3 separate regions of the Homo sapiens genome follow, and all the other regions are linked to region 1. Evidence: fine-mapped expression QTL. A gene starts in region 1. Each other region holds a variant in brackets. All regions are shown on one strand. Distances are between the middles of the regions.

The links. PIP is the estimated chance that this variant, and not a neighbour inherited with it, causes the effect. A credible set is the group of variants that fine-mapping cannot tell apart.
Region 2: its variant is the best candidate, but not a certain one, in a credible set for the expression of TDP1 in sun-exposed skin (GTEx, PIP 0.77).
Region 3: its variant is the best candidate, but not a certain one, in a credible set for the expression of TDP1 in cerebellum (GTEx, PIP 0.62).

What each region holds. Positions count from the first base shown.
Region 1 is chr14:89,950,911-89,959,399 of GRCh38, forward strand. TDP1 (tyrosyl-DNA phosphodiesterase 1) reads left to right here and starts at 5,017. Exons shown (of 17, transcript NM_018319.4): 1 at 5,017-5,060; 2 at 5,668-5,890. It overlaps EFCAB11 (EF-hand calcium binding domain 11), which reads right to left and starts at 3,820. Exons shown (of 6, transcript NM_145231.4): 1 at 3,676-3,820; 2 at 2,996-3,091. The coding sequence starts at 3,750. RefSeq lists enhancers at 3,549-4,049, 7,075-7,583 and a silencer at 5,115-5,344.
Region 2 is chr14:89,995,657-90,004,145 of GRCh38, forward strand. All of the region lies in intron 14 of TDP1 (tyrosyl-DNA phosphodiesterase 1), which reads left to right. Among named protein-coding and RNA genes, the nearest start is that of TDP1, 44 kb to the left of the region's middle. The variant A/G (reference allele first, on the strand shown) is at 3,624.
Region 3 is chr14:89,886,125-89,894,613 of GRCh38, forward strand. All of the region lies in intron 5 of EFCAB11 (EF-hand calcium binding domain 11), which reads right to left. It also overlaps the pseudogene RAB42P1. Among named protein-coding and RNA genes, the nearest start is that of EFCAB11, 64 kb to the right of the region's middle. RefSeq lists an enhancer at 6,683-7,238. The variant C/T (reference allele first, on the strand shown) is at 4,151.

The DNA.
Region 1 (8,489 bases):
GCTTGTATTCCCTAACGTTCTATCCTCAGACCATGGCTCTTCCTATTCTGCATACTCTTCCTGGGCAATGCCATCCAGCCTCGTGTTTTGAGCAACCACATGGAAACCAAGGAGCCCCAAGTCTATCTCCAGCCCTATCCCCTCCACCCAATTTCAGATTGCTACATCTCAGGGAAGCAGTAAAATCTAACGGTGGATTTTCACCACCATAACCTCAATAGCCAGCATATTATTTAACGAGTGAATGCACCTGGAATGCTCATAGCTGCCTCAAACTCAATGTGTTCCAATCGAAACTCACTGACTTCCTCTGAACCTACTCTTAAATTTTCTCTTAATTGGTGGCATTGCTATCCCTTCAGTCCCAGTGGTCATGTCACTCTTACCACCACCACATCCAATCAGTCATCAGGGCCTAACTTGTCCCACCACCCACAAAGTGTTCCTAGATACTTATCAGAGTAGTCTATCTTCTCTAGTCTAAATGACCACCCAGACTGTTATAGTTACCACTAGAATTAGGCCTTCCTTCTTTGCTCCCTTCACTTTGTTTTTCAATCTCTTCTCTTTCTTGGTATCTATCACAGTTTTATGTCTTTCTATATTAAACTCTGAACTGCTTCGAAGTAGAGACTGTGTTTCATTCATCTTTATATCACTAGCAACTAGCAAGTACTCCTTTTATTAAATAGAAACAATAAATTTCATTGTGTATGGGTGGGCACAGTAGCTTATGCCTGTAATCCCAGCACTTTGGGAGGCTGAGGTGGGCGGATCACTTGAGGTCAGGAGTTGGAGACCAGACTGGCCAACATTGGTGAAACCCCATCTCTACTAAAAACACAAAAAAAAAAAAAGAAAAAAAAGAACCGGGTATGGTCGTGTGCACCTGTAGTCCCAGCTACTCAAGAGGATGAGGCAGGAGAATTGCTTGAACCTGGAAAGTGGAGGTTGCAGTGAGCCTAGATCACGCCACTACACTCTAGCCTGGGTGACAGAGCAAGACTGCATCTCAACAAATAAATAAACTTAATTATGTAAAAAACTGCATGAATGTATAAGTGATTTATTATATAAGTATTTTATTGCTTCATGACCTGCAGTCAGTGAATATTTCATTTGCTCAAAAGCAATATTAAAAAATTAAACCCCAAACCTCAACCTAGTCTAAAAAAATCTGTTGAATTTCACAGAAATTAAGTGTCACCTGCATAATAAAAGTTCATTGTACAAATGACTAAGTTTATAGGTGACATGCTATTAGTAAATACCGTTTAGTGACCTGCGGTTACTAAATAGTTCATTTGCTTAAAAAATAAAATAGAAAACCTCACCTCAATATGAAAAGTAAAATCTGTTAAATTTCATGGAGTGTATGTACAGTATGTTACATCACTGTATCTGTCATTAAATTCCTCATTCTAAAATTGAAACCAAATAGACTCAAGGGTGATAAAGGCAAAAATGAGACAAGATACCTTTCCAGGTGAATCCAAGTTAAATACAATGCTTCACAGGCTGACTCTTTTCAGCTGACCTGCTTTGTAATTCCAACTGAAATGATTACAGGTAAACAGGAGAGCTGCCATTTCTAAGAGTCAGCCCTGACTACTTCTCTGAGCTCCATAATAAGCTTCTCAGTAACTAGGCAGCCCCTCATAGCTGAGCCACTCTGAACCCACCTGAGCTGTTCATGCAACCTACTTGGGTCAAGAGAATATATTAATACTTATTGTGCATCACAACTTCACAGTAAGTATGTTCTGTTGACACAAATAGGGCGGAGAGGCATGACATCACAGGGTCCCTGGCTTTGCTGGGCTTTCAATCTGACAGAAAGGCACAGTCCACTCATGAGGAGAACAGCTGGGCCCTAATTAACTGCCAAGCTGTCTGGTCTAATGAGAGTGAGGGATGGCATTCCAGGCTGAGCTCTGAGTGCTTCCTTTGCTTGATGGTGGCAGCTCAATTTCTTGAATCTGGACAATATCTTGACTCTGACTAATTCCAGCTTAACAAGAAGGGTGTTGTCTCTCGAATGAATGTAACAGGAAAGCAGAAAAGCATAAAGACAGGGGTGAGCAGGAAACTTGCCCTACTCAAGCAGGAGGTTCATGGAGGCTCAGCTCAACTCTCATTATTGGTGAATTGGTGCAATCTTTTCTGGAGAGCAAATATCTAACAAAATTTTAAACGTACATATTCCATGACCTAGCAGTTATACTTCTAGGAACTTATTCCACAGATATACAGCCACAAGGACATAAATGTGTGTATCATTGCAGCAATGTTGGCAGAAAAAAAAAAAAAACCCCACCTATATAACCCCAGACAGGAACCTGGCTAAAAAGAATATGCAACCATATTTTAAAATGCAGTAGTGGTGTGTGCTTTTAGGTTGATATATTGTTAAATGAGAAAAGCAAGTTAAAGTAGGCACAATATTTACCCATTTATGTTTTCAATAAAAGACTATGCATATGTATGTCATGGATAGAAAATTTCAGAATTACACAAAAAAACTGTTAATGGTAATCCCCTAGGAGTGGGACCCTCTGGTAGGCGGCGAGCGGATTTTATGCTCAACTTTATACCTTTCTGCACTGTTTTAATTTTTTGACCGTGGATGTATTTTATAAACAAAGCAACAAAAGTAAAACGAGAAAGAGACTATGTCATGTCCTATGTAAATTTCTCCTGTTACCAACACTCCCCTCTCAGTCTTCCCTCTTGGCACCTCTCTAGCATCTTGTATTTATAGTAGTTATTAGCAGCCTGGTGGTGAGATAGGCTTGTGTAGACTCCAGTGGAAAAGATTTCTACTTCATCTCTGGGCTGAGGTGTTAAGAGGAAGCTAAAATTCAGCACTGGACACATCTCTGAAATTGCTTATAAAGCAATTTATAAACATCCTAAGCTAGCCCTGTGAACTTTTCTTAGGATCCATTCACCTTTGATCGTCTACCCCATCCCCAAATATATAAGAAAGCTCTACCTTGGAGGGCTTGTACCCAAACAGCATTACAACAGCAGTTTTAAAGTCCTCTCTGCTGAGATATCCTTTGTGATCTTCATCACATGCTTTAAATACCTGAAGAACATTAAATAGCTTTAGTTAATGAGACAGAAATGGTTTATTTTTATTACTAGTTTATTATACAGTTTGGACCTCGAAAATCTAAAACTTGGCCCAGCGGTAGAGTATGAAAATAGAATTTCATTATCCCAATATTAATTCTCAAGAAATCTTAAAGATGGACTGAAATTTTCTTAAACATGGGCTGAAATTTCCCTCAAAGTGCAAACGAGTTAACCGCTAGGTGACGCAAATTAATTCATTTAGGCCACTGAGATAAATTCTACCCAAAATTCAGTCCTGGAGTTAGGAAGGTGAGGCAAAGGGGCTGGCTTTGAAAGGCGGGAGAGATGCAGACTCAAGGTTACCATTAATAGACTATATAGAGAGAAAGGAGATGGAACTTGGAGGTAGCCGTAGTCCTGGACGGGGAGCCAGGAGCCCTGCAGCTCCAGGATCAGTCATTAACCACGACCCTTTGGACAGGCAGCCCAGGTCTTATCTGCACACCCGGCAGAGTGAGACCCAGACACGGGAGAGGAAGCGAGAGGCCCAGGCCAAGCTGAAGTCCGAGGCTCAGTCGCCCTCCGGAAACCTACTTCCACCCACTTCCTGTGTTCCGAGGGACTGGCTTCCCACGTCCGCGACCTGGCTCTGGCCTCGGAGAAGAACATCGCGACTACAACAACCGAGCCCCAGCAACCCAACCAGCTACCACCGCTTTCCCAGCCTGGCTGGCAGCCTACCGCGGCCACGCCCACCGCGGCTCAGGAAGCCGAACTTCACCGCGCAACTCCGACGTCTCCTCCCATTGGACAACCTGCCAGCCACTCGCGTTAATCCCGCAGGGCTATTGGCCAGAGTCTTTGTTTAATTACGTTTCCTTGGAGCCGCCCTGGCAGTGAGGCGCCCAGGCCTGCCCCCAGCACTTGGCTCCACCCCCTGACTGTCCCTTAACTCGTTGAGCGCGGCTGGAAATCCAAGCGCTTCTAGGTGCTGGTTCAATGCCTGGTTCATGATTTATTTCATTCTCTCCCTCCATCTTGCAATAGGTTACTTTTAATCATTTAGATCTATGACACTATGCTAAACGTTATAGGAGACAAAAAGACTGTGAACAAACAAGAAGAACCAAACGAAAAGAGCCAAGTCCAGGATTCTCGTTCAGATCAGCAAGTCATTGGGATCGAGCTCCTAGGGCAGCTACTACATCTGTTATGTCCTCAAGATAATCCCAGCACCTAGCACTGTGCCTGGCACAAAGTAGATCTTCAATGAAAGAACGAAACGAGCCGTTATATTTACACAGATGTATTTCACTCAGTCCTCTGGAAGAGATGCCTAGTGTGAAAGAGATTCCAAGAATAAATACCATAAACAGCACCGAGCCCAAATCCCACAGCAAACATCCTTATTAAAGGCAAGGAACGTGGGGCGAGTTCCTTTTCTCAGAAGATTTTACGAGAACGCAACTGTTGCGAAGAAGGAACAGACATTCGAGGTTCTGAGTCCAATGGGAACTCATTTAACTTTTTATTTTGCAGCAGATTTCAAAGTCTGCACCCAGCCCCTCCCAGGACACAGGTCTCCTTGCAGCTGCCTTTAACCTAAGCGTATCCTCTCTCCACTTTAAACCAAACGCCGCTGCATGGAGCCCTGGGAGCCTGAGCCATGAGAATCCTGTAAAGAGGGTGAGTCTTGCTATTAGTTAACTAGAGCGAAGTTAGGGGACGCCTTTCTGGTTCTCCTCTCGTTTTAAGAAGTCTCCAGGAAGTAAGCCAAGAGCTAGGAGAGACCAGGTTTCCCCAGCCCCGTCCTGGGTAAACACCCGGCGGGCTTTAGGACCCAGCGGTGGGCTCTCCGGAAGGGGAAGGGGCCGGGCCTCGAGGCACAAGCCGCTGCCGCCAGGGTTTGAACTGCGCGCATGCGCGGCGGCCGCCGAAGGGGCGGGATCCGAGGCAAGCGTTGGTTCTGTGCGCCTCAGGTACGTGTTGGGCGGCAGTGGGCGCGGACTCGGTGCGGTCTCTCGCGGGCTGCGGTCGGGCCCGGGATCCTGCTCCTGGCCGAGTCGCGGTGCGCGGGCTGCTGGGGTCCGGCAGGGCTGGAGGCGGACCGCGAGGAAGCGGCGCGGCCGGGAAGATGGGGCAGGGTCGCCTCGGCCCCGGGGCCTCGGTTTCCTCCGATCACAGCGCCTCAGGGGGCGCGCACGGGCGCTGCGGAGACCTGTGTCCTGCCGGGGCGCGGCGCTAGGGGCCCCTGCTCGGGTTTTTATTCCCAGACCTAAGCTTACAGGTGCGTGGTCCCAGAAAGTGAGTAGGAAAGCGCCCACCACGTGCCAGGCGCTTAAGCTTTCTGTGCTCGGTTTCCCAGTATAGGAGGACGGTCACGGTACGTAGTATAGAGTTGTCCTGAGGGTGAAGCGAGTTTACACTTGGTGAGGCGCTTCGAATCGTGCCTGGCCGGCCCCAAATGAGCACGCAGTAAGGTTAGCAGCTGCTGCCGTCACTTCCTCACGTTCTGAATCTGCTCCGTCCCCAACGCCTTCAGCAAGAGCCCTCTCACTTCCTTTGTCTTCAACCCATTCTCCGCAGAGTTGGAGCACACAGCTGTATTAAAAAGGCAAATCGAAGGCCGGGCGCGGTGACTCACGCCTGTCATCCTAGCACTTTGGGAGGCCGAGGCGGCTGAATCACTTGAGGTTAGGAGTTTGAGATCAGCCCGGGCAACATGGTGAAACCCCGTCTCTACAAAAATAGAAAAATTAGCCGAGCGTGATGGTGGATGCCTGTAATCCTAGCTCCTCGGGAGGCTAAGGTAGGAGAATTGCTTGAACCTGGGAGGCAGAGAGGTTGGAGTGAGCCGAGATTGCGCCATTGCGCTCCAGCCTGAGCGGCAGAGCGAGACTCTGTCTCAAAAAAATAAATGTAAATCGGACTCCCCTTCTTAAAGCCCTCAGTGGGGTCCCATTGATCATTGCATAAAATCCAATTTCTTTAACAAGTCTTCTCCCCTCACCCGCTTCGGACCACTGCCTGCCTTGCCTAAGTCCTTTCTTATGACCTCTTTCCCACCTCTGCCGGCTGGGTTCCCTCTACTTGGGAATGCTCTTCACCCCATCATTTAGACAGCAGGTTCCTTTTGGCCCTCTGGGTCTCATTTATATGTTACTTTTTAAGTATATTCCAAAGGTCACCCCTATTTTTCTGTCTCATACTTATAAAATGTAATGAATGTCTAACTCATCTTGGCTATTAAAATTTTTATGTGTGGGTCTGTCTCTTCTGCCCTGAAATTAGCTCTGCTAGGGTAGAAACTATATTGTTAACGCCTCATTCCCAGTTTTTGGTACATAATAGCTGCCCAGTAAGTTATTGAATGAATGAACTCCAGGGGGTAAGCATGATATCCATTTCACAGACTAAAAAACTGAGGCTCAGCAGTTAACTAACCTGCCCAAGTGCACATTTACTCCCTAGTCATGGCCGGGTTTGAGACAAGGGACCATGTTTGCCTATTACTGGCCACACAGGAACTCAATTGAGGAGCATGGCCTCCAGGCCCAGCTGATGGTCTTTAAGCTCAATGAGAAGGAGCAGCTGGAGGTGAAAGAGAAATGCCCCAGCTGGGTCTCATATAGTGGGGAGTGAGGAAACACTAGTAGCTCTAAATGGAGTACCCTTTTATATCCACAACATGTTTTAAAGTCCTTAATAAAAGTGCTAACAGTGTCCTGAGCTAGCATTTGGTGGGAAGATTTCTTAGATTTTTCATGTTAGTGCAGTGTTTGCCAAATTTCACTCACACTCACCTGCCTTCTCCCCAGTTTGCTTTATTCTCTTAACACATGACACAGGATTTATTTCAGGGCCGCTTTGCCAGCTGGAGACCTCCAGCCCTGGGCTGGCTGCAGGAGGTGCCCTGCCCACTCAGCCTGGCAGAATGCATTTGTCTTTCATCCCCGCCCAGATCCCGTGGCCACTATGACTGCATGCTCAGCCCGCGAGGAGTCGGTTTGTGAGTGAGTGAGCAAGCCTGGAGGCCCGGCTGGCTGTTCCAAGTGCTGGCCCAGTCACAGGCTCCATGTAGGGCTTGTGGATGGCCTGGGTGTATGGCAAGTGACTCTGGTAGCAGATTCTGGTGTCCAGACGAGGGGGATGCAGTAGTGCCCAAACACTTGGAGACACCAGGCAAATAGAGATGTATTAACAGCTCTTTTAGTCCCACCATCTGCAGCCCAATGAATGGGGGTGTGTGGCAGCCAGCAGCTCCCTCTCCCATTGCTTCACTAGCGGAACGGAGTGCTACAGGGTTATAGCTCTATTTGCACTCGCTGTTTAGCTGGTCCGAATTTCTTGTCCTGCGTCCAAGAATAATGAGGTTAGGCTGACAACCGAAGGGGAAAAGGGCGGAGGTGAGTTTTACTCAGTGATGAGACAGTTCTCAGCAGAGACGGGACCCCAAGTGGATGGCCCCTGCCCTGACCCCAAGGTGGGCAGTTCGCTGGTGTGACTGAGTCTGGGGCTTTTATGGGCTCAGAATGAGGGAGTGTGTGCTCCATGGTTTGTGAGTATGCAAAAAAGGCTAAAACAAAGGCACCACTCAAAGGTGGGCATGACAATGTAAAAAACCAATTAGGGAAGGGTAGATATATGTAAAGTAGGTGAAGGGTGGGGATTGATCAGAGGAAAGTGTGCCAAGTGGGAAGAGGGGTTATCAATCCGGTCCGTGGATTTACCCAACACTTGTAGCTTGGCTTTCAGGCTTTAAACTGTCTTTGGTTTGCAGGTGGGGTTTCACTGGGGCCCTGCCCCTATCTGCCTAGGGATTTGTCTGCCTCCTGCCGCTATCACATAGACTATCATATACTTAATATTTTTGTTTGAATCCAATCATTCTTTTACATAAAATAAACTTTATTTTGCTATTTCAAATATAACGTAGCCATAAGATACCTTCTGTTGATGGTAAACAAAATTGTTGGTGCCTGCAGAAGAGCCCAAACCCTGCTATTTGTTCAAAATCAAGATTAAAAGCATTTCTACAACACTACAACTTTCTTCTTGATTTAAACAGGGAGTTTGGATTGGAATGGAAAGGGAAGTACTTTCATAATGTCAGGTCCCAATCACTTCCACTTCAGGAAACACTGTGCCGTTCTGATTGAGTGCCAGGATTCAGAATCAACACAGCTATATTGTATTCTGATTCTTTCAGTACCACTTACAAAAAGTGTGACTTCAGATTTATGCTGTACCAAGCACTGCCCAGGCAGGGAAGACAGATGATAAACAATTGAAGGAAAGCTCTCAGGTTCTACATTTCTTAAAACTGTATGACTTGATTACAAAGCACTCTGAAATGCTGGGCACCAGAGCCTCTATGAGGGAAGTAAATTCTGTTACTGGTGACCAGT
Region 2 (8,489 bases), 45 kb after region 1:
GATTAGGTTTGGACATTTTGTTTTGTCTGTCACTTTTTCTGAACCTGTCAGAAAGAATGTTCCCAAACCGAACTCATGTAGATGGAGATTTCTTTTCCCAGAATTCTTCTTTGCCCTTGTGGCACCTGTCTCTTATTACCAAGCTTAAAGCCTGAATGTCTCTTTCACTATTCCCTCAAATGTTTGGCAAACATTTGCTGAGGTCCTCCTGTGGATGCCAGGCACTCAGGATAAAACAGAAGATTTAGATAGTGTCTTTTAGATGCTCACAGTCTCTGATGGAGGAGCCAGACACAGAAATAATTACAATAGGAAGAGACCAATTATGTGCTTGAGGTGGGCACATGGATGCTTTGGAAATAGCTGTCAAAGCCTATTTATCTTTGAAATGTTTCAAAAGTTTCCTCTTCCAGTCCTTGCAATTACCAGGTCAGAAACTTATCCTCTGGACTTCTGAAAGGGTTTCCTATCTGTTGTGTCATCACGTGGATGTTCTTCATAAGCCACTCATCCTGGTTGCCCATGCCCCTTCACCTTTCTGAAACATAGAGTTTCCTCATTGTTCCATGTTCAGAATTCCCCACGTCCTGTAGGCTAAAGTACAGATTCCTCAGTTTGGAAGTCATGCCCCAGCCACACCATTTTCACCATTCTTACCCATTAATCCCCAAGAGGAGCCTTGAGAAGAAGCCAGGCTAGCCTCCTTTGCCCCTGAAGTCATCCAGCCAACAGCCCATGTAGTTTCTTCTCCTGATCCTTTCATCCCTTTTCTCTCTTTCTTCAGTTGCTGTTCATCTTTTAAGAGTTGTGTTCAGGTCCCATCTCCGCCTGGAGCCTCTTTCAGCCTCTGCTGGTCCCTCCCTGTCCAGATCCTTAGATCCGTGTGCCACCAGTGGAGCTCACAGCTCCTACCTCACTATTTTGTCTCTCAAGCATGAGCTTTAACATTGTCAGACAGTACTAGATGAGATGGTCATGTCTACTATTGAACAAGTCTTGCCTTGGACAAGTTTCTTAACCTCTCTGAGCCTCAGACTTCTCAACTGCACAGCAACTATGAAGGTTTAAGGTGCCAACTATGGTGACCTGTGGGAGTAAGAAGAAAGGGGCAGGGGAGAGAATTGACCTGCATTAAGTAGCCACCATGTGGCAGACACTTCTGGTGCTTTACCTACATAGTAGTGTCTTTCAGTCCCCACAAGAGCTGTGAGGTGGCGTTATCCCCTCCCTCCACTCAATGAGGAATAAGGCGGCAGAGTTGAGGCAGTTCTACCCATTACTCAGCAAATATGTATTGCCCGCTGTGGCAAGAATAGAGTAATTAAGATGAGGTTCTCACAGAATTTACATTGGCATGAAAGAGATTTACCAAAGAATTCATTGTATACATATTAGTTAATTGCACTTGTAATGCTTTTTGACTATTCTACATAGGTGGGTTTTTAGCCAAAACATCACTTCTGGAGCCTGGTGGCTTCCATAATGCCCTAGATTCCTGCATTGTCAGCGTTCTTTCCCTATTCACTGTGGTTGCTTGTGTAATTATCTGGCTTCCCCTCTAGACTCTGTGAGGCCAAGTCCATGCCTGTCTTGTTCAGCATACCCTGGTGACTGGCCAGGTGCCTGACATGTGGAGGCTGATGAAGCCTAGGATTGAAGTGGTAACCATGAAAGCACTGCCTAGACTGCATAATGGAACATGGGAGGGCCCTCAAAGGTGATTCCTGAGTTTGGGGTATGTAGATGGGGATTGTCACTGATATCAGTATAGAAGTCAGGGAATGGAACTGGCCTACCACAGTGGGATGATGGTGAATTTGATTGAAGATTGATTTATCATGGTGGAGACTTCAGGTGGAATTGTTTGTTGGAGATGAACTTAAAAGTTTGGTGTACATATAGTATGTTTTGGAGTTTTGGTTAGTACTGATTGTTAACACCGTAATCCTTTGCGACTTCCAGAGGAGAATATAGCGGATCAACGCCTGGGCATTGAGGAACATACAAGAAATACATATCAGGTGGGCTTTTCATGCCTACCAGGTGTTCCATTGCCAAACAAATGAATTGGATTCAAGCCATCCCTCCTGGGTTGAAGAGCAACTGGTCACACATTCTCCATTACATAATTTTTCTTCTACCTAAGAAAAATGTTTTATATATATATTCTATTTTGGGTATCAGATTTAACCATTTATCCAGCACATAACTACTGAGCACCTACTATGCACCACACACTTTTCTAGGTGCTAAGAATGCAATAAACAATAAAACATCTTGACTTTTATGTTCTGGTGCTGGGAATTACACAAAAAGCAAAGAAGTGTGTTTATGTATGCAAATGGTGGTAAGTGCTATAGAGAAAAAATAGAATGATAATTTAGGTGCACAATCCTTTATTCTAAATTCTTGGTACCAGATGTAGTTCAGTATTTGGATTTTAGAAAGATAATATGGTACCTATACTGTCTGTTAATATCCCTAGTGGTATCTGGACCAACACTTCATAATACAACATTTTGGAAGCAAAGATCACAGGTAGCCCCATGTCATCTTAGTTCAACTTTTGTTGCCCAATGAGTTAAGATCAAGTTTTGCTATCAAATGAAATGAGTTAAAAGCTTTATTTCAAATTTGGTTTAGGTTATTGTTTTTAAATTTTCAGAGCTAACATGTAGTTCTTAACCAGCAGTTCCAGGCACAGTTCCAAGCACATTATATATATATATATATATATATATATATATATATATATATATATATATATGTATGTATGTATGTATGTATATGTATATGTATATATATGTATATATTAATTCATGTAATTCTTATAGCCGTTCTACAGTGTATCCATTAATCCCCTTTTCAGATGGAAGAACTGAAGCACAGAGGTTAAACAATGTGCCCAAGAATCCAGAGTCCCCACCCTCAAACACTGTCCTGTAGGGTGTGAGTGCTCGGGTTGGGGAGGGAGGCTGCTCCTTAAGGAAGAAGGTCAGGGAAGGCCTTCTGACGTGGTGACATTCATGCAGAGACCTGAAAGAAGTAGGGGAAGAGCCATGTGGATGGGTTGCTGAGGGACGCGGGGTGGGGAGTGGGAATATGCTTACTGTGTTTGATTAACAGCAAAGTGAGTGTTACTGGAGTCAATAGGATGGGAGGGTAGGTGAGTTCAGAGCAGTAGTGGGTGGCCAGACTTTGCCTTTTTACCTGCTTTCAGATATTACCGTTTCTTTGATGTCTCCGGGGTTGCCTGAGGCCTTATTAGTCGTTGGTCTATGGAAAGCAGTTCAATGAATGTTATAATTTGAATTGATTGGAATAATTGAGTGCTTTTCTAAATGCTTGTTCCATGAGATTTTCTAGAATAAGATGTGGTTTTAAATAGTCGACTTCAGCTTATACTCAAATAGTGTGTCTCTCAACAGGGCACTATTGTTATTTTGGTCAAGATAATTTTTTGTTATACAAGATTGTCCCATGCATTATAAGTTATTTAATAACCTGGCCATCACATATTAACTGCCAAGTCCTAGTGAAAGCTGAAAAAAATGCCTTATACATTTCTAAATATTCCCTAGATTTTATGCTCTGGTGGACAATATCATCATCCTTGAGAATAA[A/G]TTCGTTATGAACAACTGATATATCCTTTCATTTAATATATTTACTTGCTTTAGAATAGTGAGGCAGGATTGTAGAGAGCACTGTGGATTCTAGTCCAAATGAAGTGCTCATGCCCAGCAAATCTAATGCTCTGTCAGCAAAGTAGCAGACATACTAGTTTTAAGAATTGGATTTTAGCCAAAGGTAAATACATCAAAAGCTACGTAAATTTAACTTTTGATATTTTTCTACTTTATTATTACTGATCCGTATTAATGTTTGGGTTTGGAATGAATAACCCACTCCTCTTTATTAAGTACAATAAAATTAAAACAAATTCCCCAGAAAAAAATTATAGGAGTAATAAGCACAGAGAATTATAGGCAATATGAATTTTGACTTTTAACATGATAGACTTTAAAAAATAATCTAGAGCTGCATATCCAAAAAAGTATTATGATCACCCTTTGAAAGTAGGTGCTTTGGCCAAAAACATTGCCATTGCTCAAGTTTTCTTTCCACTCTTCCAAGTTCTTTCAAAATAAGTTGACATGACACATTAACAAATAAGTATTGTTTCTTAATAGACATTCTTTGTTTCCAGCCTTGCATTAGTTTTCTGTTGCTATGTAATATATGATCACAAACTATAAGGGGGCTTAAAACAATACAAATTTACTATCTCATGGTTCCCGTGGGTCAGGAGTCTGGGCGTGGATTAGCTGAGCCCTCTGCTCAGTGTCTCACCAGGCTAAAATCAAGGCGTCAACCCAGCTGTGCTCTCATCTGAAGCTTGGGAGTCCTCTTTCAAGCTCACGGTTGCTTGTGGCTGTAAGCCTGACGTTCCTGCTTTCTTGTTGGCTGTCAGCCCGGCGTTCTCGGCTCCTAGGTGCTGCCCGTGGTGGTCTGCTGCATTCCTCATGGGATGCTTCTTGGAGACCAGCAGGAGGATCTATCTCAGGAAGGACCCAACTCAGGCCCACCCAGGATTGTTTCCCTTTTGAGTAACTTAATTAATTGATAACCAAATTATGCAAGTGAAACTCTATCATATTCACAATTCTGGCTTATCCTCAAGGAAAGGGGATATACAGGCATGTGCACCAGGGGCCATCTTTCGATTCTGCTTTCCACAGACTTCACTGATGGAGTTCCGCTCTTATTGCCCAGGCTGAAGTGCAATGTCACGATCTCGGCTCACTGCAACCTCTGCCTCCTGGGTTCAAGCAATTCTCCTGCCTCAGCCTCCTGAGTAGCTGGGATTACAGGCATGCGCCACCAGACCACGGCTAATTTTGTATTTTTAGTAGAGATGGAGTTTCTCCATGTTGGTCAGGCTGGTCTTGAACTCCCGACCTCAGATGATCCGCCCACCTCGGCCCCCCAAAGTGCTGGGATTATAGGCATGAACTACTGCACCTGGCCCACTGATATTTCTTTCCTGGTTCGATTTACCCATCTTATTCTCCAATTTTGGCTGGAATTAATTTTTTACTGTTTCCAAAATTGGGGTTTGTTTTTTGTAGTTAAGCAAAAGTACCCTTGTACACACTCAAAAGACTGAACCTCTGGCTCCAAAGCTCTTTGAGAAGTTCTGTACTTTCTTGGAGCCAAAAGAGGCAGCTGTACTGGAGTAAGGGACCAACCCCGCAGCATGACTGCTTTGGAGAACCATATTTACTTGGGTATGTAGAGTTGTTAAAAATAATAGTCCTATAAAAGATTCATAGAATCACAAAAGATCTGATTTCCTAATCTTAAAAAATCTCATCCCCTTAGGAAATGTATTTCGTATGGTTCCTATTGGGTCTACGTAATATCTTATTGCCTGTTATGTCTCTACCCATCATAAGTAGAGGATGTTGACTTCCTGATCATTTGGACTTTGTTTCATCCAGTTGACATTTCACAAATGTGAAAACTGGCTACAGAAGGTCAGGAATTGGAATCTTATAAAAATGCTAGCCTTAATATAGTTTTTAATCTTCCCTTTTATTATTTTAAATATAAATCATAGTTTTCATTTCCTCTCTTTCATTATGTGTTGTGATTGAGGTTCTGACTGAAAACATTTTTCATAGATCCTGGGTCACGTTTTAGTATATGGTTGCCATAGTTACCACGTCACCAAGAATCATAAAATCTGCACCAAAACCTTTTTTAATGAAGTTTCTGTTGAACTATCTGCATTAGAAGTTTCCTTTTACTGTAGAGAAAAAATGAGTTTATAATTATCATGCTTCATTTCCTACCAGAATACTCATTGTGATCTTTGGTAATTATTCTTTAATGTTTGTGCCTTCTGGCAGATTGGCTAATATAGTGCCTAGTTCAGTACCTGGCCTGTAGTGGCTCAGAACTGAATGAATGGTATCCCCCTTAATCTAAATGCAGTTTATTTTCAGACTGCTTCTCAGGTTTTATTTTTTTCTGTACTGTCTACAATAACTATACTTTTCTTTCAACTTCTAATTCAAATGCTCCCCTTAAAGTGAAACTTTTTCTAGCTCAGCAGGCATAATTATTTTTTCCTTTGTGTTTTCATGGCGCCTTTTGCTTGGTCCTTTTTTCATCTTCCCAGTTTATTTTATTTATTTTTTAATTTTTTGAATATCTTCTCACTGCTTCTGTAGGCATCGACCTGGTTGCTTCTTTATGGGTCTCTTTGCTTCCCTGTGTCATGAGCTTCAGGTGAGCAAGGTGCCTGATCTTACTCATCTTTTTCTGCTTAGCATCTAACACTGCATGGCACATGGTTACTGACCAAAAATTATTTGAATCAGTACCCTTTTAAAAACTTATTTTTTTCCAATAGGTAACATACACAATAAAATAAATGGTATATAAAGAAGGTATGTCTTCCCATTCCTGTTCCCCAGCCACCCTGCTCCTCATCCAGAAACCACTACTACTAGTTGCTTGGGTTTAATAGCTGTAACCCATCAACATTTTCAAACCCAGGGTCCACAGATGGTGACATTACCCAATCATCCAGCATATTATGGAGGAAATAACCTGAGATAGAGTCCAAAGATCCAAGTCCTAATTTGAGATTGCCACTTACTAGCCTTGCCACTTAAATTTTGGAAAACGCATTTATACCCTTGGCTTTTATCTCATTTATGGAATCCCAAGGATGATGATAGAAAACATGCGGTTGTTTCCTATTAAACAGTATGCTGTGTTTAATATTAGTTCACTGCTTGATTTTTCATGTCTCTCATATTCATTAGGCCTCTTAGGATTTAAGAAAGCACCTTATAAAGCCTTTATCTGTTTTGCCTGTGTAACACATCCATATAAAATATATGACCTTAAGACGTATTCAAGCTAGGTGCAGTGGCTCACACATGTAATCCCAGCACTTTGGGAGGCCAAGGCGATCGGATCACTTGCGCTCAGGAATTCAAGATCAGCCTGAGCAACATGGTAAAACCCCATCTCTACAAAAAAAAAAAAAAAGGCGGGGGATGCTTGGTGGTGTGCGCCTGCAGTCCCAGCTACTCAGGAGGCTGAGGTGGGAAGATAACTTGAGCCTGGGAGATTGAGGCTGCAGTGAGTCATGATGGCACCACTGTACTCCAGCCTAGGCAACAGAGTGAGACCCTGTCTCAAAAAAAGAAGATCTTTTCATAGATATATAGCCTTTTCTAAACTAAATATGTGGTTATTTTTATTTTATTTATTTATTTTTTTTGAGATGGAGTCTCGCCATTCACCCAGGCTGGAGTGCAGTGGCATGATTTCGGCTCACTGCAACCTCCGCCTCCCGGGTTCAAGCGATTCTTCTGCCTCAGCCTCCCGAGTAGCTGGGACTACAGGCGCATGCCACCATGCCCAGCTAATTTTTGTATTTTTAGTAGAGATGAGGTTTCACGGTATTGGCCAGGCTGGTCTCGAACTCCTGACCTTGTGATCCGCCCGCCTTGGCCTCCCAAAGTGCTGGGATTACAGGCGTGAGCCACTGCGCCCAGCCATATGTGGTTAATTTTTAAATTGGTCACAATTACTCTATTTAATCAGGACAAGTACCGTCAGCCAGATTTATACATTCAGAGAAACTCAAAATTAACAGTTCACTTGAACTTATTAGGATGTTATATTAGCTGGCGATTTCCTCTTTTGATTGGTTACTTTTATGGAGAGATATTTATGGTTTTAATAAGATTTCCCTCCCATCTGTTTTGATCCTACCGTAAAATCATCCCATGTTTGATGGGCAGCCGGTTGTTAGGGAAATTATTGGGACATGATGACAAATGTGGTATTTAAATTTTACCACAGGACTAAGCAGGAGGAAGATGAGGTTTAAGAGAAGCCTTGGCTAAGAGGATAGTGCCTAGGTGTAATTGGCAAACCCAATGAGAACAGTTACGAAAGTTGTGTATTGTGGGTGGTCAGAAGCAAGGTGGGTACCTAACACATGCTGGATCACTGTTAGAGTTGCCTAGCAACTGACAGGCAATGCGGATAGTCAGGGATGAGCAGAAATGTTGGTGCTGCCACTTCGGGAGAAAACGAGACAAGTGCTTGACTGCAAAATCACTGGCTTTTTGAGGAAACATAAAAGACATTCTCTCTCCTCTGCTTTTCAATATTACTATGCAGTACTCCTTCTCTAATGTCTGTTGCTTTGATTCTGAAACAAATCATCTCTTTTTGTTCTCCTTTGTCTGAGTATTTTGGTGAAAATAAAATTGGATTACACAAGAAAATACTTACAGATGTCATTGGGTAGACTTGCTTGCCTGGCCCTGTGGCTCTAAGATATTGGGATTAGCTGGTATGCTTCATGTGCTTTGTTACAAATGATGGTTATCAGTACTAACGCCTACAAGTGACTTCCTTTATACGATAGAGATGACTCAAGGTCATATTACTACCCT
Region 3 (8,489 bases), 65 kb before region 1:
AAGGCAGCCTGTGGGCAGAACTGCTTCTTCCCTGGGGGACCTACATGTTTTCTCTTAAGGCATTCAACTGATTAGATGAGGCCCTCTCACCTTATAGAAAGTGATCTGCTCGGTCAGGCGTGGTGGCTCATGCCTGTAATCCCAGCACTTTGGGAGGCCAAGGCTGGTGGATCACGAGGTCAGGAGATCAAGACCATCCTGGCCAACTCTGTGAAACCCCGTCTCTACTAAAAATACAAAGAAATGAGCCGGGCGTGGTGGCGGGTGCCTGTAGTCCCAGCTATTCGGGAGGCTGAGGCAGGAGAATGGCATGAACCCTGGGGGCGGAGCTTGCAGTGAGCTGAGATCGCGCCACTGCACTCCAGCCTGAGCAACAGAGCGAAACTCCGTCTCAAAAAAAAAAAAAAAAAAAAAAAAAAAGGAAAGTGATCTGCTTTACTCAAGATCTACTGATTTAAGTATATCTTAAAAATATCAAGACTGGTTTTTGATCAAACACTGAGGCAAATATGACAAATATTAAGACAAGATAAAGGGAAGTGGCTGAAATGCAAGTGTTACACCATATTATTCTCCATACTTTTCTATGTTTAAAATATTTCTAATGGACACAAAGAGATCAAAGTATGTATTTAGTATCTCGATATTTGGAAAGACTCCTGATTTATTGCAGTTTTGGTAATTTACAGCAGATACACAATTCTCAGAGACAGCCCAAAGAGTCAGAAAATTTAATCAGGCTTAGAGATTAAATATATCCATTGTTAACTTTTTAGTTAGCTAATTATTATAACCTAAACCTAAGGTCAGTCTGGATACCTTCTTCACATCCTAAATAATCCACAGAAAATCTTATAGATTTGAATTAACAAAGATCAAATACCATACTAATATAAACAGATTGTTTTTATAGTCTTTAATAAATTCATTAATTTATTCAACAAGTGCTCTGAACTAACCTGAACATCCAGAGGTATTCAAGAACAGACAACATCACTGCTCTCATGAAGCTTTATAGTCAAGCCTGACAGATAGACAATAAGGAAACAAAAACAAAAATCTTCCCTGAGATTTGCTAACTGCTATGAATGACATAAAACCAGGCAGCAGAGATTTACTGGGGATGGGAGATGGAGTGAAGTCACTTTGGATAGGAAAGGCCTCTCTGATGATGTGATATTTAAACAGGGAACTACAAATGCAAAGATCTGAAATAGAAGGTAGCAAACAACTAGATACACATGATCACATAGGAGTAATAAATTAGACATAAGCTTTCTAAGCCTATGGAAACACAGGGCCATTTATCATGTGTAGTTTGAAGTTTTGGAATTCTTTTTAAAAAGTAAAACTAGAAATAATTTGTTTTCTATCCATAAACATTTAAGTAAGTGTCATGCCTAGGTCATATAGCATGACTCCTTATGTGGTATTTAAGTAAAAACAGTACTAAGGTATTAAATTGAAATAAAGTAACACTGAAAATAAATAACAAGGAATCCTTAAGGTATTTACTGAAAGAAACCAGTAAAAGTCAACCTTTTTCTTACATATGTACCAACCATTTAGAAAAGACAACAGACTGTAAATATATTCCTGGGAACAGGTGTTATGGAATAAAGAAAGCAAACTTAGGCAGGGATCAAAAAAGCAGGTGACTATGAACAGTAAAATAATATTACAGTAAGACATTAAACATCTGTATCATATTTCAGCACGTGTTAACACTCGCATTTTTCTTGAAGCTATAATATATTTTCTTGGAAATGGATATAGCAAATAGTGAATCTTCTCATTTCAATTCTAAAAAAATAATCTAAAGTATACTTGTAGAGAGGCAAGCTCTTAGTTATCAGCTATATCCCAGATGGCCCTCTAGCAGCATTTAAAGGCCATGCCCTTAAGTCACTGTTCAACATACTGAGGTAGATAATACGGCCAATACAATGATGAGAATTACAAAGAAGGAAATAAAACAGAAAATGCTGTTGCTATGGTCTGAATATTTGTGCCTGCCCCAAATGCATATGTTAAAACCTAATCACCAATGTGATGGCTGGAGGTGGGGCCTTTGGAAGGTAATTAGGTCATAAAGGCTGAACCCCCATGAATGGGATTGGTGCCCTTATAAGGGGCTGAAGAGACTAGAGTTCTCTCCTTTCACCATATGAAGACTGTAGTAGGCTGTTCTTGCATTGCTATAAAGAAATATCTGAGCTTAGATAATTTATAAAGACAAGGTTTAGATGGCTTATGGTTCTGCAGGCTTTACAGGAAGCATGGCGTTGGCATCTGCTTGGCTTCTGGGGAAGCCTACAATCATGGCAGAAGGTAAAGCAGGAGCAGGCATGTCACATGGCCAGAGCAGGAACAAGAGTTGGAGCAGGGGAAGTGCTACACACTTTTAAATGGCCAAATCTCACAAGAACTCACTAACATGAAGACAGCACCAAGCCTTGAGGGATCTGTCCCCATGATCCAGACACCTCCCACCAGGCCCCACCTCCAGCATTGGGGATTACAGTTCAACATGAGATTTGGGTGGGAACAAATGTCCAAACTATATCAAGGACACATTTAGAAGGTACCATCTGTGAACCAGAAAGTGGGCCCTCCCCAGACTCCAGATTTGCCAGCTCCTTGCTCTTGGACTTCCCGGCCTACAGAAGTGTCAGAAAAAAATTTCTGTTGTTTATAAGCCACCCAGTTTATGGTATTTTTATTATAGCAGCCCAAATGGACTAAGACAGCTGTCCTGTCTTTGTTTATAAAACCATGGCGCTGTGATACTGTCTCTGTTTGCAGTTCTAATTGCTAAATTTCAGAAAATACCAAAAGGGAAATACAGAAAGAACCATGGCAGTAAATTAGTGGTCAAGGACCAGACAAATGGAAAAAACAATTCAAATTCTCCAACCCAGAAGAAACACAGAGGCAGAGAAAAGCCTATGAGATCAGGAAGGGTTTGCATGATAATTAGAATGATTTTTCAAATCTGAAAATTAAGAGCCATGAAACAACACTGAAGATTAAAAGGGGCTGTATGAAGACAATTTCTTCCTTTTTTTGACAATTTATTTTAATCACCATTTTAAGGAAATGTATGGAACATCTTATTCATGAGGTGAGACAAAATGAAAGTAATTTTCAAAAAAACCCAAATAAAGTATTGGATAAAATCATGGATTCGAAGCCTTACTATGAATCCTGTTTTACTACTTATTAGCTGTGAAATATGAGACAAATTTTTTAACTTCTCTATCCCTCAGTTCCCCATCTATGAAATGGTGATTGTGAGGATGAAACGAGTAAAGGGCTTAGAACAGTGCTTGCCAAATGGTAAGTGCTTAAAAAACTTCAGCCACACCTCCACATGTAGAAAAAAGTTAAGACAGCAGACCTGACTGCAATTCTGCTTACAAGCCTGGCCCTTGACTGGCATCTGGGAACTTGGATTTCAGGAAGGTTCCTACCACCATTAACTGGTAAGAGTTGATCACTGTGCTTAAAACTGTTTGTGCAGACAACATGGCTCCCACTGAATACTTGCTTTCCTTCTGCGAGTCTGAAATTTTGGCACATGCCAGACAGAGAATGCCAGTGTGATCAGCCCACAATTAAACCCTGGGCACTGAGTCTCTACTGAGCTTCCCTGGTTGGCACATTTCACATGTTTGGTCACAGCTTACTATTGGGGAATTGTGTTCTCTGTGACTCCACTGGAGGGGAACAATGGGAAACTGGCATCTGGTTTCCCCTGGACTTCACCCCATGTACCCTTCCCGTGTGCTGGTTTTGCATTGAATCCTTTCACTGTAATAAATCATAGCCATGAATACGACTGTAGGCTGAGTCTTGGAAGTCCTTCTAGTGAATCATCAAATCTAGCGTTGGCCCTTGGGGACCCATCAACACACTTGGACACAGTTAATCAATTATTTTGTCGTAGGTATAAGTACTATAAAATGCACTTTTATAAATATTGAGTTCAAGTTCAAGAAAAGTGATTTTTAGATATAATACCTTGATAAAAACAGAAACACTGCATGATTTCTTCTCATAAATAATGAATGCAATAAAAATGTTAAGCTTCAATGACATGATCACTAAATTACATCAGTATTTCCTAATACTATGGTTTTAGGTTATA[C/T]GAAAATAAATATTTAGCTTACAACTTCTAAATGATATTCAATATAAGAGCAATAAAAGGTCAGAAATACTTGGTCATATTCTTTAAACAGCAATAGAAGATAAAGTAAAGCTAAAATGCCAGAATTACTAAGCTTTAGAAATGCATTACTGATTTTATATATTTTCTATATCTCTTACAAATAAGTGATACTCTTTTCTAACACTTAATAATTCTTATTGTCTACCTAATAAATCAATATTTGGAAAGCAGAATTTAGAAGGAAAAGTTTGGGAGACAAAGTATTTAAGAATTCACATGAGTTTCTGTTTTTGGATACTCAGATCAACTCCCCACTGCAAAAAACTAAAGATGCTGGATAAGACACTAAAACAAAACCACCTTAAAAGGACTGAAAAATTAAAAAGAGCTGCCAGGCCAAATTCTTGAGGCTAGCTTGAACCCAAAGAGGTTAGTGGAAAGAAAGTTGGCATCCCAAAGCCACCTTTGCCCTGAAGGCATTCACTCACATCGTGCACTGGGGCTGCGGTCTGGTAGCCTCATGGGGAGACGAGGCCAGAAGTGAAGATCCAGGACTTTGCCAATTTGGATCATCTCACAGGATAACTTTCCCACATTAAGCTGAAATCCAAAGGACTACATGAAAGTTTCCCTGGTGCTGAGCAAAGGAGTAAGAGAAAAATGAAATAAAAAACGATCATTCACCCCTGAGAAGTTATGAGTGTTGACTGACCCTCACTGGGAGAGTCCCTGGGATCCTAGGTCTAAACATACCTTGAGTGAATACAGAAACTTCCATCTGTGGATTTGTTTTAATATAGTCCTGTACTGACTGTGCTACAAGGAGCCTGGCAAAAACACATAAACCACTCTGATTTCATCCTGGACTTGTGGAATTCCTCATAAATTATTTTTCAAGGTCGGTGAGCTCCAGAAAGTTGAATACAAACAAGTTTACAGGGAAACTAGTCACCATGAGCAAGAACCAGCAGAAGCAGACATAAATAGACTTCAACTAGAGGTTCTATGTTTAAAAATAAATAACTTGAAGTGACTTCAGGGAATAGAAAACTATAAGATGTAACAGAGGATTTTAATAAATGTTTATAACCTTTTAATACCTTTGTACTTTTAATTCATTAAAATTACTTAAGAGTTTGAGATATTATGGTAGAAATCAGAGTTTTTCAAAGTAGCAGAAAACAATGTATTGTCAGAAGCAAGAGGTTTCTGATTATGTTTATAATTAAAGTTATAAAATTTCCAAGGCAATATTTTATTTATATTAAAATAGCAAAATCTGTACCAAATATAAAAAGAGGGAATTCTCCCTAATTCACTGTATGAGGCCAGTATAAGCTTGAAATGAAACAAAACAAGAAAGGAAAATTACAGCTCCATTTTAGACACAAACACACACACACACACGCACGCGCACACGCACACACCACCCTAAGTAAAATATTAGCAAACTGAATCCTACTGTGCATTAAAAAGATAATAGGATAGGGACGCGGCCATGGAGGCCGAGGGCTGCCGCTACCAATTTCGGGTCGCGCTGCTGGGGGACGCGGCGGTGGGCAAGACGTCGCTGCTGCGGAGCTACGTGGCGGGCGCGCCTGGCGCCCCACAGCCCAAGCCCGAGCCCACGGTGGGCGCCGAGTGCTACCGCCGCGCGCTGCAGCTGCGGGCTGGGCCGCGGGTCAAGCTGCAGCTCTGGGACACCGCGGGCCACGAGCGCTTCAGCTGCATCACCGGGTCCTTTTACCGGAATGTGGTGGGTGTCCTGCTGGTCTTTGATGTGACAAACAGGAAGTCCTTTGAACACATCCAAGACTGGCACCAGGAGGTCATGGCCACTCAGGGCCCGGACAAGGTCATCTTCCTGCTGGTTGGCCACAAGAGTGACCTGCAGAGCACCCGCTGTGTCTCAGCCCAGGAGGCCGAGGAGCTAGCTGCCTCCCTGGGCATGGCCTTCGTGGAGACCTCTGTTAAAAACAACTGCAATGTGGACCTGGCCTTTGACGCCCTCACTGATGCTATCCAGCAGGCCCTGCAGCAGGGGGACATCAAGCTAGAAGAGGGCTTGGGGGGTGTCCGGCTCATCCACAAGACCCAAATCCCCAGGTCCCCCAGCAGGAAGCAGCACCCAGGCCCATGCCAGTGTTGACTCTAGGAGAGAAAGGGTTAAAGCAGTCCCAGCCTTAGCCCACCTGGTGGGATGGGGAATGTTAGTATCTCTCTGGAGGACAAATGACAGAAGGGTTCATATAAACAGTATCCTGACACAGTCATGCTTCCTGGATTTTAGAGTCAAGGGTTTCTACAGAAAAGAAAGGTCTGATGGCCAGGCATGGTGGCTCACGCCTGTAATCCTAGCATTTTCGGAGGCCAAGGACAGCGGATCACCTGAGGTCAGGAGTTCGAGACCAGCCTGGCCAACATGGTGAAACCCCGTCTCTACTAAAAATACAAAAATTAGCCAGGCGTGGTGGTGCATGCCTGTAATCCCAGTTACTCCGGAGGCTAAGGCAGGAGAATCGCTTGAACCCAGGAGGCAGAGATTGCAGTGAGCCAAGACTGTGCCACTGCACTCCAGCCTGGGCAACAGAGTGAGACTCTGTTTCAAAAAAAAAGAAAAGAAAAGAAAAGAAAGGCCTGAGAGCCCAGATGTGCAACTTCCTGTCCTTGAGCCTCAGTGTCCTTATCTATCGATGGGGCTCATAAAAGATCCCACCTTGCAGGGAGGTGGTGACCACGAATGAGATAGTGGACAGGATGTGCTCACCCAGAGCCTGCCGCGCTGTGAACTGAATGACAAAAGCTCTCATTCCCACTCCCTTTTTCTTGGCTGTGATGTGCCCACTCTGGCAGCATTCCTGGGCTCAGACACTGAGAAGCCAGCGTCAGGAAGCTGCTGCATGAGCAAAGGCAGGTGCGGGAAATTCCAAGGGGAGCTTGGCTTGGAGGCTCCTTATGTCCTCAGGCTAAAATGATTCTGGGAATGGGATTAATATGTGATGTCAAACCCAGGGTTGCTGGGTTTGCCCCCACCCTAGGCCCAGGGGCTGAAAAATGGATGTTGGAGGCTGGGATGAACACGAATGTGCAGCAACTATGTTGGGCACACAGTGGCCACTGTGATGAGCCACCAAGATCCCCCTTTCTGGCTGGGGAACCCATCAACCCTCTCCCCAGCTGCTGAAGTGCCGCTGGATGATGGACTTCAGCTTGCCCCACTCTCTGGGAAAGGCCCTCCCTTCAGGGCAGCCCGTATCCAAAGTCCATCTCCTGGGGGGCCTTAAAGGCCTTTCCCTCTTGCCCCAGCTCTGGACAACTCTGAAAGTCAAACCCAACTTTATCAGTCTCTGTGGGCTTCATTGAGGACACTGTTGTGACATCATAGCCAAGTTATCCCCCTGCCCAATCCTGCTTCCTTTTCTTCCCCAAACAGGTATCCATTTCAAGAATATCCCCTAATAAACATCTGCACACTCGTCTCCAAAAAAAAAAAACAAACAAACAAAAAAAAAGATAATAGGATAGTAAACTTGGGTTTATATCAAAAATATAAAAGATGAATTGATATTAAAACTATACATACATATACACAGACATGTTATTCATCATATTAATGAATTTCAAAAAATAACATCTCAATAGATACAGAAAAAGCATATAGTGAAATTTAATGCCAATTCTTGATTTTTTTTTTCTTTTTTTGAGACGGAGTCTCTCTCTGTCGCCCAGGCTGGAGTGCAGTGGCGCGATCTCGGCTCACTGCAAGCTCCGCCTCCCGGGTTCACGCCATTCTCCTGTGCCCGCCATCACGCCCCCGGCTTATTTTTCGTATTTTTAGTAGAGATGGGGTTTCACCGTGTTAGCCAGAACGGTCTCGATCTCCTGACCTCGTGATCCACCCGCCTCAGCCTCCCAAAGTGCTGGGATTACAGGCGTGAGCCACCGCACCCAGCCTTGATTTTTTTTTTTTTAATTTAAGTTCTGGGATACATGTGCGGAACGTGCAGGTTTGTTACATAGGTATACAAGTGCCATGGTGGTTTGCTGCACCTATCAACCTGTCATCTAGGTTTTAAGCCCCACATGCATTAGGTATTTGTCCTAATGCTCTGCCTCCAGTTGTCCCCCCCACCTCCGCCCCCGACAGGCCCCCAGTATGTGATGTTCCCCTCCCTGTGTCCATGTGTTCTCATCAATTCTTGATTTTTAAAAAACTCATGATAAACTAGACCAGATAAGAAATTCTTTAATCTGAGAAAGGATCTAACCCCTACGGCTATGATCAAATTAAGTGATAAAATATTGAAATCTTTCCCTT